Linked DNA regions of Homo sapiens: region 1 is linked to region 2. A link means that fine-mapping ties the variant in region 2 to the expression of a gene that starts in the linked region. Tissue or cell type: monocytes. Region 2 holds a variant in brackets; the other region holds the start of a gene. All regions are shown on one strand. Distances are between the middles of the regions. Region 1 holds the start of ASGR2 (asialoglycoprotein receptor 2). Region 2 overlaps LOC105371512 (a long non-coding RNA gene).

Evidence for each region. PIP is the estimated chance that this variant, and not a neighbour inherited with it, causes the effect.
Region 1: ASGR2 starts here. The variant in region 2 is fine-mapped to the expression of ASGR2 in monocytes (Fairfax 2014, PIP 0.95).

Annotation. Positions count from the first base shown.
Region 1 is chr17:7,113,297-7,116,045 of GRCh38, forward strand. ASGR2 (asialoglycoprotein receptor 2) reads right to left here and starts at 1,526. Exons shown (of 9, transcript NM_001201352.2): 1 at 1,319-1,526; 2 at 821-1,014. The coding sequence starts at 944. RefSeq lists an enhancer at 1,678-2,464.
Region 2 is chr17:7,137,017-7,140,024 of GRCh38, forward strand. LOC105371512 (a long non-coding RNA gene) reads left to right here. Exons shown (of 3, transcript XR_934191.3): 2 at 222-782. Among named protein-coding and RNA genes, the nearest start is that of ASGR2, 24 kb to the left of the region's middle. The variant T/C (reference allele first, on the strand shown) is at 1,295.

The DNA.
Region 1 (2,749 bases), 24 kb before region 2:
CACACACACATACAATCACATACACACACTAACACACACACTCACGCAACACACTCACACACACAACATACATAACACACTCACAACATACACACACAACACACACACTCGCACAACATACACACACGCACAACATACACAACACTCACACAACACACAAACATACATACACTCACACAATACACACACACAACACACACACAACATACACAACGTACACACACACAACATACACACACTCATACACAACATACATACACACAACATACACACAACATACACACACTCACATACACAACATACACTCGCACAACATACACACATGCACAAGATACACACACAACACACAACATACACTCACACACAAGATACACACAACATATACTCACACAACATACACACACAACACACTCTCACACACAACATACCCTCTCACATACACGACATACACACACACAACATATGCACGCTCTCGCGCACATATACACACACACAACATTCACTCACACACACACACAGAGTCCCAGCTGAATCTGCATTCCTCATATGCACATACGTGCACACGCACATACGAGGCACATGTGTTCTTGGGTTGGGAGGAGAAGGGCAGGCAGTTATCTTCCAGATCTCCCCACACCTCTGGCACATGCCTTTCCTGGGGTCCTGGGGTAGACAGGAAGGTGAGGTGAGGGAACAAGCGGGGGTGTCGGGCCCTCCTCAGTCCCTGTTCACAGAGTGGGTGCGGCAGAGACCTCAAAGGGACAGAGCAATCATGAGCTGAGACAGAGGGGGAGCAAAGCCGCAGAAACTGCACACTTGCCTTTCAAAAATGGATTTCCTCTCCTGGGATTCAGCCTGCGAGTGCCTGGCCCCTCACCTTGATGGAAAGGATGGTCATTTTCCTCCGAGCTCAGCTGCTGGATATCTTGAAAGTCCTTGGCCATGATGGGGCCCGGGCTGGAGCTGGAGCTGGAGCTGGGCTGGGCTGGGCTGAGGTTGCTCTGAGGGCTGGGGCTGGGGCAGAGGTGCAGATTCACGTGGAGGTTGATGGTGGGATGGAACGCAGGGTCGGAGGGGTTCGGGGTGGTGGCCTGGGTAGGATCTGAGGTTGGCAGGGCGTTTGGGATGAGGTTTGAAATCCCGCTGGGTCCTTTCCCTTCTCAGGAGACCGCTTGGGCCTTGACCTGGCCAGGAGACCCCTCCCCACGCTCATGGACCCGACCACCCACAGCTTCCCATGGGGTCCTCCCCATCCCTGAACCAAGGCCTCCTTGTTCCCAAGCATCCTCGTCCCAGTTGCCTCCCCAGCCTCAGTTACCTGTGAAAGGTGTGGAGAGCGGACACCTGGCTCCCGCAGGCAACCCTGGCCTTGGCCAAGGAGGGGTTAAAGCCAGGAGAACTGGGGCAGGTGGAGCTCACAGGGGAGAGGAGAGTGGAGGAGGGGCTGGTCCGGGCAAGGCCTGCACTGGAGGGTCTGAGTGTCCAAGCTCTAACCTGGCACCTCCTGGCCTGGGACTTTGGACAGTAAACAGAAGAGGAAACAGAGCTGTAACTCATTTGTGGGGTGGGGGCAGGGGACGGGGCTATCTCTGTTCTTATTCCCAGAGAGGGGGGTCCCCTGGGCTGCGCTCAACTCCACACGCCACTCACCCCACTCATTGCACCATTTGGAAGGGGTGCCAGGCCAGGAGGGGCTGGGGTGCAGTTTGCCGTTTCCCTCTCTCCCTCCCCCTCTCACTTCCTGCCTCCGAATTTACCAGAACTGTGGGTGTCTCCAAATATCCCTGACCAGGATCACAGCGACCAGTTCTCTACTCTTGCCCAATCCGGCATCTGAACCACAGACCCCAGCTTCCTGTGGGCTCGGCCACCAGACTCTCAGCTCTGGCCCAACTCGCTTCACTCTCCTGGAGAGTAAAGCCTCTCAAATCCAGAAGCTTCAGCAGGAGGAGGAAGGGGCTTTGCAGAAAAACAGCTCTCCTCGCAGGAGGAATCCAACCTCAGAGAGCCCCGTCCGGCCCAGACCCTGCCCCAGCCCAGGCAACACAAACACTGTCCTCAGGCCCAGCCACTGCCCTAAATTCTCCAAGGTGTTTCTTCATTTATCACAGCACAACACCCCCACGAGGCAGGACTTCTGTTACTCCCATTTCACAGGGTTCGGAAGCGGAGCCTCGGAGAGATGAGGCAACTTGCTCTAGGTGGTGGCCCAGGTGAGTAGAGAAACTGGCAAAGCAAAATGGAGTAAAGAGGGGAAAATAACATCATAACAAAAGGTCTGGCCGGGCACGGTGGCTCACGCCTGTAATCCCAGCATTTTGGGAAGCCGACGTGGGTGGATCACCTGAGGTCAGGAGTTCGAGACCAGCCTGGCCAACATGGTGAAACTCTGTCTCTACTAAAATACAAAAATTAGCCGGGCGTGGTGGCAGGGGCCTGTAATCCCAGCTACTCAGGACGCTGAGGCAGGAGAATCGATTGAACCTGGGAGGCGGAGGTTGCATTAGCCAAGATTGCGCCATTGCACTCCAGCCTGGGCAACAAGAGAGAAACTCCATCTCAAAGAAAAAAAAAAGAAAGAAAGAAAAAGAAAAGAAAAGGTCTTCATGGTCCTACGAGGAAGACTGGCTTCCATGAAGCAAGGAACGTGGCTGACTGTCTACACTTGCGCTAACAATAGCTCGGGAAAGAAAACACAGTTTTTGTGCATGATTTTCTGACCCTCACCAAACTTGGGCGGATGGCTACG
Region 2 (3,008 bases):
CCTAAAGGTGTTGAGGCAGCTTGGCCTGAGACCGTGATAGCTTCTGTTTCATCCCCAGATCTATTACATGGAGTTCAGAAACCAGGACGATTGCATTTATAAGCCCCAAATTTAAAAGATTATTTGAAAAAGAGCTTCTTGAGTTTTACTCTTGATACACTAAATGCAATCCACAGCCTCTCTGCCCTAACAGACTTTCGTGTTCCTTCCCTCTTTTATAGTAAAATTAGGAAGTGGGGAGACGGGACAAGTAAGTAAGGGAATCTGCACAGGCTGAGCAACCCCACCCTCAGCCTTGCTGAGTTCTCTCCACCCAGAGGACACTGTACTCCTGCTCTGGGAAGACAGCGCCTCCCGCCAGGGGATTCCGCCAACCACCGCTCCCTGCAATCGGGGTTACCAGTGATGATTCTTCCCCCAGCATCACCCTACGGTGTCTTGGCAGCCTGCCTCCTTCACAGACTGCCTCGAGAGTCCCTCAGAGCTATTTCCTTAAAGACCAAATGCGAGCATATCTTCACTGACGGGGTTTCAGAGCCTCACTTTGCAAGTTTTGAGGCAGAGGCTCAAACTAATTTTGCTGAGAAGGACAGGAGAGCTGAGAGAAAATCAAACAGAACGGCGGCTCTCCTCCCATTCATGGCATGTAATGCTCTGGGCCCAGCTACATCTGCCATGGCCTCCAGGGACCTGCTGGAGGGGTCTCCCAGCCCCACCTGGTATAAGCCAAGCCTGCTCCAGACTCAGGATCTGCCCAGAGGGCTGGGATCTCACAGCCTGAGGTAAGCATGAGTCAGTCTGAATGTAATCTACCCTCCCTACACCCCTTCCCAGCCCCAGCCTCTCTGAGGGGTCTCATAGCCACCCAGCCTGCCTGTGACCTTTGCTGGCTATAGCTTTTCTTCCCATTAACTTTTTTTGTTTTGTTTTTGAGATGGAGTTTCACTCTGTCGCCCAGGCTGGAGTGCAATGGCGCGATGTTGGCTCACTGTAATCTCTGCTTTCCAAGTGCAAGCAGTTCTTCCCCCTCAGCCTTCCAAGTAGCTGGGACCACAGGCACCCACCACCATGCCCGGCTAATTTTGGTGTTTTTAGTAGAGACAGAGTTTCACCACGTTGGCCAGGCTGGTCTCGAACTCCTGACCTCAGGTGATGCGCCCGCTTCGACCTCCCAAAGTGCTGGGATTACAGGCGTGAGCCACCATGCCCGGCCCCCATTAACTTTTAATAATAAAACATGGTGGCCAGGCGCGGTGGCTCACGCCTGTAATCCCAGCACTTTGGGAGGCTGAGG[T/C]GGGCAGATCACGAAGTCAGCAGATGGAGACCATCCAGGCTAACACGGTGAAACACCCCGTCTCTACTAAAAATACAAAAAAATTAGCCGGGCGTGGTGGCGGACGCCGGTAGTCCCAGCTACTCCGGAGGCCGAGACAGGAGAATGGTGTGCACCTGAGAGGCGGAGCTTGTGGTGAGCCGAGATTGCACCGCTGCACTCCAGCCTGGGCGACAGAGCAATACTTCATCTCAAATAATAAAATAATAATAATAATAATAAAAACATGCTGCCTGATTACAGGAACTTAAACTTGTTTTGTTTACCCAAGCTGACATGTAAAAGTTACTAATAACTTCTTTGTCTAGGCAAGTTAGCAAATGACTTTGTAAGCACTGAGCAGCTCCCCTTAACTGTTTAAGTGGGAAGCCAGCCGTCGCCTACCCCAGGCAGGGGAGGCAGGACTTCTCCAGTGGCTCAGGGGAGACTGCCCTTCTTTGCCAGTTTTGGTTTGCAGACAGGTCACTGAAAGGTGGGGCCAAAAAGCTTCTGTGAAGCAAAGAAATTTGAGACCCTAGTCCCTTTCTTTTGGAGATCTAATGTCCTTAGAACCTCTGTGATGAACAGAGGCTCTAGCTGAAGTCCACTGACGGGGAAAGGCACCAAAGGGCCCGAGGGAAGCCCATCATGACTGAAGAGGAAATAGAACAAGTGACCCTGTGTCTTAGTCAGCTTGCACTGCCATTGCAAAACACCACGGACTGAATGGCTTAAACAAAAAAAAAACATTTCTTTCTCACAGTTCTGGAGGCTAGGAAGCCCAAGGTGAAGGTACCGGCAGATCCAGTGTCTGGGGAGGGCTCACTTCCTGGTTTACAGACAGCCACCTTCTTGCTGTGTCCTCACGTGGATGAGAGAGCACACTCTGGCCTCCTTCTCTTCCAACAAGGGCACAAATCCTATCGTGGGGACCCCACCCTCACAACCTCATCTAAATGTAATTATCTCCCAAAGGCCCCACCTCCAAATATCATCACACTGTGGAGTAGGGCTTCCACCTATGAATCCGGGGTGGGGAGGACAGAAACATTCAGTCCCTAGAATCCTGTATCAGTGCTAAGGCCTGGTAGGGTTTGTGAGGGAAGCCGCGTTTGGCACAGGCTGAAGGTGCCCCCTCACCAGATAGAGGCTGAGAAGATGTGCTTTGAGGACCTCTGCTGAGCAGGGCTATGAACTGAAGTGTTTTTTCCTCTGGAGCCCGAGGACACGGTGCAGTTGCTCAGCAGCACTAAGGAGGGACTGGGTGTGCCCTGAGCAAGCTGTCATTGGGGGTTAAAGACTGAAACTGTCACAGCCTAGGTGCCTAGTGGCTTCCGGGACAGAGCTAAGCAGGGCACAACAGGGGTAGACGGTCTGTTCCATTAAGCTTTTGAAGCTCGTTGTCTGAGGTAATACCCAAGGTTCATCGTCTCATGCCAAGGAAATTGAGGATGCAGGCACACACGACGAGTGAGTTTAAGAGCAGAGGTTTAATAGGCAAGAGAAAGAAAAGCTCTCTCTCCTGCAGAGAGGGAGGGGCTCCCAAGTCGGTCTTCTGGCTCCGAGGTGAAATGCACTGGGTGTTATAGGTGAGCTTGAGGAGGCAGTGTCTGATTTGGAGGTTTTGCCTTGTTTTGTTTTGTTTTGTTTTTGAGACAGAGTTTCGCTCTTGTTGCCCAGGCTGGAGTGCAGTGGC